Regions from separate parts of the Homo sapiens genome. Here regions 2 and 3 are each linked to region 1. The links come from fine-mapping of genetic effects on gene expression. A gene starts in region 1. Each other region holds a variant in brackets. All regions are shown on one strand. Distances are between the middles of the regions.

Region 1 (2,843 bases):
CAGTTCTACAGGCCTTGATACTTTACAAACTGTTTTCATAAACATTATTTTGTTCGATAACACATGCAAGCCAGGATTTATTTTTTTTTTTTTTGAGAACGGGGTCTCACTCTGTTACAGACCCAGGCTGGTTTTGAACTCCTGGGCTCAGGTGATCCTTCCACCTCAGCCTCCAGAATAGCTGGGATTACAGGTGCATGCCACCATGCCTGGATTCTGGAATTTATTCTGAACCGTTAGCCAAAAGAATCAACATCCTGAGATTCAGCACAGGCAGGCCCTCCTCCTGGAAGCTTCCCTTGCTCCTTCCCTCCCAAAAGGTACCCTTTTTGTATCCCATAATTCCTTGTTCTTGCCCTTATCATTGCCCCTCAGACTGACTGCAGCTTTCTGTTAGCAGAGCTTGCTTTTGGTGAGTGTCTTCAACAGTTCCTGGAACAATTTCATAAATATTTATTGAGTTTGAGAGCCTTAATTCCAAGAGTGGAACCTTTGTTGTGAATAGGTTAAACAACCCTGTGCCCTTTGGGTGGGGTCTAGACTAGGTATATTATCAGCATTTTTATTGCTATACTTTTTGTAACTGTTTTCAGGTATATGCATTGGCTTAATTCGGCCAAAATACACCTCATTATGGGTCTCATCATCCACCTAGACATGATTCTTTTTTGGGAGAAGGTGATAGAATAATGTCCCCCTCCCATGATTCCATATCGTGATCCCCAACACCTGTGAATATGTTAACTTACATAGCAAAAATGACTTTTCAGTTATGATTAAATCAAGGATTTTGAGATGGGGAGATTATTATGAATTATCTGGTGGACCTAATCTAATCACAAGGGTATTTATAAGGGAAAAGGGGAAGTAAGAGGGTCAGAGTCAGATACGACAAGGGAAGCAGAGGTCTGAGTAGTTCCGCAACAAGCCAAGGAATGTGGGTAGCCTCTAGAAGCTGGAAAAGTCAAAGACACAGATTCTCCCCTAGAATATCCAGAAGGAATACATCTCTGCCCACACCTTGATTTAAGCTCAGTGTCACTTCTGACCTCCAGAACTGTAATAAAATAAAACTGTTAAATCACTAAATTTGTGGTCATTTTTGACAGCAGCAACAGGAAACGCCTAAGGACTCTTGTTTTCCTTCCTCCCAGCCTCACTGACCCTCATAGGCGCCCAAGTATCAATGTGTATTCTTCCGATTCACCTCCCATCCCTTTGAAAAATATGTAGAAAGTTTGTCGTGTGCTTTAAAAAATGCACGTATGGTATCCTCCCTCATGTTTGGAATGTTCCTTTTAAAATCAACATTATGTATTGCCAGCTTTCAAATATGCCCTTTGTCCTTTTCACAAAGCACAGTACTGCCAGTGTCCCCAACTCCACCCAGTGAAGTAGGGCTGGTATTACTAACCCTGGAGTCAGCGCTAGCAAACAAGGGCTCAGAGGTCAAGGGCTGGAAGCCAGGTCTCCAGACTCCCAGGCCAAGGCTCTTTTCCGCAGATGACTCTGTCCTGGTGTCCAGCAGGGCACAGCCCCTAGCACCTCCGAGGCCCCGCAAGTGTGCTGGCAGCGGCGACGCCGGCTCCGCCACGCGGAGGGAGGAGGCCCAGGCAGCGCCCGGAGTGGGCGGCGACGTGGTGGAAGAAGTTTTGTTCGGTCAGAGACCGGACGCGGGAGCTGCGGGTGGGCCAGGTGTCCAGCCTTGGGAGCCGTAGGAGCCGCCAGAGCCGCCAGAGCCGCCGGCGCCCCGCCCCGCCTCCTCCGGCCGCTCTCGCCGGCTCAGGTTACCTGAGGCCGGTGGGCGGGGCGGCCCTTCCCGTCTGCGCCGGCCCCCAGCCTCCAGGGCGGCGGAGCCGGGAAGTGGAAGAGGGAGCGAAGGAGGCGGGGACTGCCAAGGCTCCAGCCCGGCCGGGCTCCGAGGCGAGAGGCTGCATGGAGTGGCCGGCGCGGCTCTGCGGGCTGTGGGCGCTGCTGCTCTGCGCCGGCGGCGGGGGCGGGGGCGGGGGCGCCGCGCCTACGGGTGAGTGCGACCCTCGGGGCCCGAGGGGCGGCCGGAGGGCTGAGGGCGGTGAGGGTCACGGCTGAAAGGCCCCGGAGGTCAACGCCGGGCGGAGGGCCGAAGCTGGGGTGGGTGCTGGGGGCTGCCCTCGCGAGGCCCCGCGCTCGGCGGCTGCGGCTTCCCGCGCGGGATCTCTGGGGCCCGGTACTGGGGCCGGTTCGAGGTGGGACCCGGGAGCTGCGGGGTTTTCCCGAACTCCGGGTGCGGCGGAGGTGGCGGCAGCGAAGTAAGAGGGCTGCGACTTGTAGTGGGAAGAGCCCAGGAGGCTGGCGTCCAGGCGTGCGGGGGCGGGGGGCCCGAAACATGCCCACGGCGTCAGAGGGCCGTGGGTCAGCGCCCGGAATGTCGCCTGTGAGCCCGGGAGGAAATGAGGCGCCAGAGCCGGCGGGGACCACGACCGAAGTCCAGGCGAGCTGAGAACGCGCCGGGGCTCTTTGCCCGAGGCCGCGCCAATCCTCACTGTCTAAGGGTGGCTCTTGCGAGTGGAAGTTGAAGGGAACCTCTAAACATCTCAGTCCTTGTTGAAAAAGGACGTGACGCTCATGACCTCCTCTGGCGTCGAAGAAATCCTTTGGGAAATCCAGAATAGCATCCCGGCAGATGCTCCCCCCACCCCACTCTCTTTAATAAACCTTATATTTTAGGGTAATTGTAGATTTATGGAAAAGTTGCAAAGATACTTCAGAGAGTTGTGTATATCCCTCACCCTGTTTGGTAACTTCTAGTTAATCAACCTGGCAGTTGTGAAAAATTGGGAGTTAATGACTTCCTTAGGAGCAGC
Region 2 (2,500 bases), 180 kb before region 1:
TTGTTTGTTTTTGATAGAGATGGGGTCTCCCTATGTTGTGCAGGCTGGTCTCAAACTCTTGGACTCAAGTGATCCTCCCACCTTGTCCTCCCAAAATTCTGAGATTACAGGCATCAGCCACCATGCCTGGCTACTACACAGCTTAAAAAAAGTTAATAGGAAATACTTTGAAATGCAAAGGCCATATTGAGGTTTGGGAGCTGTTTCTGGTTATGAGTTTCCTTTATCCCCACTCTTTTCCATTATAAATTATGAATCTCCATTTTGAATTTCAAACTCTTCTGATTTCATCTCCTGAGCCATAGCAGTAGTGTTGTATTTCAGAATTTGTCACAGCTAGAATGGGAATCAGAGGAAGGTTCAGCTAGAACCTTCTGAGGCATTTTGCCAAGATTACTTTTTCCTCTAATAATTGTATTTTGGGCCAGGCGTGGTAGTTCATGCCTATAATCCCAGCAGTTTGGGAAGCCAATATGGGAGGATCACTTGAACCCAGGAGTTTAAGACCAGCCTAGGCAACATAGCGAGACCCTGTCTCTACAAAAATGAACAAAATTAGCCATGTGAATTGGTGCTCCCCTGTAGTCCCAGGTACTTGGGACATTGAAGTAGGAGGATCACTTCAGCCTGGGAGGTCGAGGCTGTAGTGAGGCGAGATTGAGCCACTGCACTCCAGCCTGGGTGACAGAGTGACACCTTATCTCAAAAAAAAAAAGTGTTTTAACTGTTATTTAGTTCAACATTATTGAAATTAGTTGGAACTGCAGTGTTGACACATCATTTTTTCATGTTCTCTTTCTGTATCAATACAGGGCAAGTGAGTGTATGGGGCAGAGGATTGAAAAGGGGGAGCAGTTTTATAGTTTCCAGGCTAGAACTTGAAGTGAAGGCCAAAGCACAAGTCCAGGCCTATGAACAAAGGCACACTGGGAGAGTCTGGTTTGTACCTTTCAGTGCTCTGTTAC[A/G]GGGTGGGGGATCATATAAGTTCTTCCTGCATCACGTCTGGATTGTTTCAGGCATAGGAGGCTAAAGCTAAAGATGAGGTGAGCAGCTGACCCAGCTCTTGGATAATTGGAAAAGGCAGAGGCAGAAGAACTGAGACAAAGGGTTGACAGAGTTTGAGAGGAAAGTTTCTATGTATTTTTTTTCTACTATGGTAATGTTTGAAGTGAAGAATACTAATGAAGCTCATAAGCAAATGGGAAGATGACTCAGGTGTGCTATTATCTGAGTCATTTCCCCAATCCTGGAGGCAGGTTTATCCTTAGAGCATCTGGAGTTCCCTGCCCGCTAGGAACTCCAGCCCACACTGGTAAGAAGCATTGGTAGATTTAGCAACCAGCACCTCAGGGCCAGAGCTTGCAGAGTTGAGAGCAAAGAATCTTTTCTTTTTGGAAAATCCAAGCTTCGATAGCCCCTGCAAACTCATGGCAAACTAACTAGGAAGCAAGAGCAGATCTGGTTATTAACCATGACTCAGTGGCAAATAACAGCCTCCATAAGCCAAGCTTCTTCCCTGTGTTTTAGCTGAGCTTATTTGATGCCCTGTGGCTTGACACTGGCCTGCAGTTCCCTCTGGAATTGCTAGGGAATAAAAGCAAGGCATCTTGGTGCCTTTTAGAGAGAGGTGTACGTTTAAGCGTCTTTATTCATTAAGAAATTTCTAAATTTTAAAAATTATGTGCTGGGCATAGTGGCTCATGCCTGTAATCTTAGCACTTTGGGAGGCCAAGGCAGGAAGATGGCTTGAGTTTGGGAGTTCGAAACTAGCCTGGGCAACATAGCGAGCCCTGTCTCTTCAAAAAATAAAAAAATTAGCTGGGCATGGTGACGCATGCCTGTATTTGCAGCTACTTGAGAAGCTGAGGTGGGAGGATCGCTTGAGCCTGGGAGGTCAAAGCTACAGTGAGCTGTGATTGCATGACTGTACTCCAGTCTGACTGACAGAGCAATACTCGATCTCTTAAAAAAAAAATTACAGTCAGTTCTTTGGAAAGTTTGAAATTATGCGCAACTTTAAACTGATCTTAGAAATAGGTCTGAGTTGTTTTGCTGGACATTTTGACTGTTAGAAATAAAGGAATCTGCCCAGGCGTTCATGACCAGCCTGAGCAACATGACGAAACCTCGCCTCTACAAAAAATACAAAGGTAGTTAGCTAGGCGTGGTGGTGCACTCCTATAGTCCCAGCTACTCTGGAGGCTTAAGTGGGAGGATCACCTGAGTTTAAGAGGTGGAGGTTGCAGTGAGCCAAGATTGTGCCACTGCACTCCAGCCTGGGTGACAGAGCGACACTCTGTCTCAAAAAAAAAAAAAAAGGGAGGGAGGGAGGACTCTAATAGCAAGGAAGGGAGGAATCACATCGTGAGAGAAAGTGCAAAAATAAAACGAAGGAAAGAGTATTAGAAGAGACTCAGCAAAGTGCAGTTGATAAAAGGGAATTAGAAGATTCCAACTTTATAAGATCTTTTGAGAAAGCAACCACATGGCCTTTAATGCA
Region 3 (2,500 bases), 130 kb before region 1:
CCTACTATTTGGCCACTTGGCCAGTCCTTTAGGAAGTATTTTTGGAGCAGTATGATGAAACTGAACTAATGTCTGACAGTTTCAGCTTGAGAAAACGAAGTTCCATGTGTAATTTTGCTTTCATTTCAGATTAAAATTGAGCTTCCCATTCACCTACATCAAAAACATCATTTGCTTTTCACTTTTTATCATGTAAGTTGTGAAATTAACACAAAGGGAACAACCAAAAAGCAAGACACAGTTGAAACTCCAGGTACGTGTTCTCTTTAAATGTCTCTCTCTACAGTTATTTGAAATGGAACTGTCCAGGGTATAACCTCTTTTCACCAAGCTATAGACCACTTCTCCCCTTGACCAAAAACCACTGTATTAGTTCATTTTCATGCTGCTGATAAAGACGTACCAGAGACTGGGAAGAAAAAGAAGTTTAATTGAACCTTACACTTCCACATGGCTGAGGAGGCCTCAGAATCATAGCAAGAGGTGAAAGGCACTTCTTGGCAGCAGCAAGAGAAAAATGAGGAAGAAGCAAAAGCAGAAACCCCTGATAAACCCACCAGATCTCGTGAGACTTATTCATTATCACAAGAATAGCACAGGAAAGAGCGGCCCCCATGATTCAATTACCTCCCCCTGGGTCCCTCCTACAACACCTGGGAATTCTGGGAGATACAATTCACATTGAGATTTGGGTTGGGACACAGCCAAACCATATCAAGCACATTTCTGATTTTAAAAGTTCATTGGTAAAATGCATATTATATGTTCATTTTAGTATTTCTACCAAATATCATTGTCCATATGCTTGCCAATGTGCTTAGACTACTATAAGCAACATAAAGTAATATTGCTATTCTCAAAAAGAAACACATATTGCGATACAGTATTTTTGTTATTTCTTTTATGTAGAATTGCCCAGCAACCAGAATTTTCCAGTTCTGCTCACTGAGGAAGAGGGAAGTGAGCCCAGAGCCAGGGACATCTGTGAGCCAGAGGGAGGTTGGGGGCTGACTAGTTCTAATGAGAAGATAACTGATTTAACAAACTTGAATAAGCTTCAGCAGTGAAGCTCTCGTCATGGGCCCATTCAGCAAGGCTTTACGTAAACCAATGGGTAGCACCCTTAGCAGAAATAGAAGGCCTTGTGAACACAGCTTGTATCACAAGCACTTTACGAACATCAGCATGTCCTAAGATTCAGATCCCAGCTAGTCTGTATTATTCACTCATTCATTCATTCAGCAAATATTTCTGCATACAGGTTGAGCATCCCAAATCCCCAAGTCCAAAATG[C/T]TCCAAAATTGGAAACTTTTTGAGCACTGACAAGATCTTCAAGGGAAATGCTTATTGGAACATTTCATATTTTGGATTTTTGGATTTGAGATATCAACTGGTATTATGCAAATATTCTGAAAAAATCTGAAAAAATCAGAAATTTGAAACACTTCTGTTCCTAAAAATTTCAGATAAGGGATACTCAAACTGTATTATGTACAAGATATTGTAGTAGGCACTTTGGAGAATACAGTGGAGAATCAAACACAGATCTCATCTTCAGTGAGGATATGATCTAGTAAGGGAAATGAGTCCTGCGTAAACAATTATAATACAAGATAGAAAGTGGTGTTTAAGAAAGTAGTGCTACGTGAACTCAGAAGAGCGAGTTATTCAGCTGGTGGAGAGACGAGTGGCTGAGAATCAGAGAAGGCTTCTAGGAGATGGTGTTTGAGTGAGGCCTTAAAGGGTTGGGTGGGGTTTGATAATGCAACAATGGCAGGAATGTAGGGGATTATGGGGTGAAGGAACAGCTTGTACAGAGGCAGAGTATCAAGAGGCATGGACAGGAAACCACAAGTAGTTCACTAAGCCTGGAGCACAGGGTGCTAGGAGGGGGATCATAGGATGTCAGGTTGAACAGGAGGCATCAGATTTTGGAAAGCCTTGAATACCAGGCTATAGATTTTATTTTATTCTATCACCACAGTAGAACTATTGGAGGGTTTTAAACATTAGAGCAGTTTTTCAGGAAAACCAACCAGGCAGCAGTATAATGGGCAAGGCAAGTAGAAGCAGGAAGAGGAAGAAAGGAACACCAGTTAGAGGGTTATTTCAAAAGTCCAGGAAAGGAAGAGGCCACACTATGGCAGTAGCAGCGGGGGCAGAGAGAAAGGGAAGTGCAGAAGAAGAACATATTGGACCTGGAAAGTGATTGGCTATTAGAGAGATGATTTAGTTAGCAATGAAGTTTCAAAACTGGGTGATTGGAAAGAAGGTATTGCCAATAGCAAAACTGTGGGTAGGGATGGCAGGTTTGGGACATCAGTTGAGTTTTAGGTGCTAGTGAGACATTGGAGTGATACCCAGCAGGCAGCAGGACTGAATATGAGGGAGTTCCCTTTGCAGGTAGTATGGATATGTTCTTTATCCCCATAGAAATTGCCGTTAGTTCAGGGTAGGGGCTTTGAGGATTGAGAAGAAAACTGGCAGAACGATGAGAACC

Direction of the effects. Alleles are on the strand shown, and positions count from the first base shown. SD is a standard deviation of normalised expression in the study named. Not every link is listed here.
For the expression in esophagus mucosa of the gene that starts at base 1,903 in region 1, C is the low allele of the variant in region 3 and T is the other (small effect, 0.19 SD a copy in GTEx).

The links. PIP is the estimated chance that this variant, and not a neighbour inherited with it, causes the effect.
Region 2: its variant is the best candidate, but not a certain one, in a credible set for the expression of IL13RA1 in whole blood (TOPMed, PIP 0.59).
Region 3: its variant is the best candidate, but not a certain one, in a credible set for the expression of IL13RA1 in esophagus mucosa (GTEx, PIP 0.52).

What each region holds. Positions count from the first base shown.
Region 1 is chrX:118,725,704-118,728,546 of GRCh38, forward strand. IL13RA1 (interleukin 13 receptor subunit alpha 1) reads left to right here and starts at 1,903. Exons shown (of 11, transcript NM_001560.3): 1 at 1,903-2,023. The coding sequence starts at 1,936. RefSeq lists a silencer at 1,512-1,941.
Region 2 is chrX:118,549,735-118,552,234 of GRCh38, forward strand. The region is part of intron 6 of DOCK11 (dedicator of cytokinesis 11); the gene reads left to right. Among named protein-coding and RNA genes, the nearest start is that of DOCK11, 55 kb to the left of the region's middle. The variant A/G (reference allele first, on the strand shown) is at 966.
Region 3 is chrX:118,593,085-118,595,584 of GRCh38, forward strand. DOCK11 (dedicator of cytokinesis 11) reads left to right here. Exons shown (of 53, transcript NM_144658.4): 20 at 130-253. Among named protein-coding and RNA genes, the nearest start is that of DOCK11, 99 kb to the left of the region's middle. The variant C/T (reference allele first, on the strand shown) is at 1,294.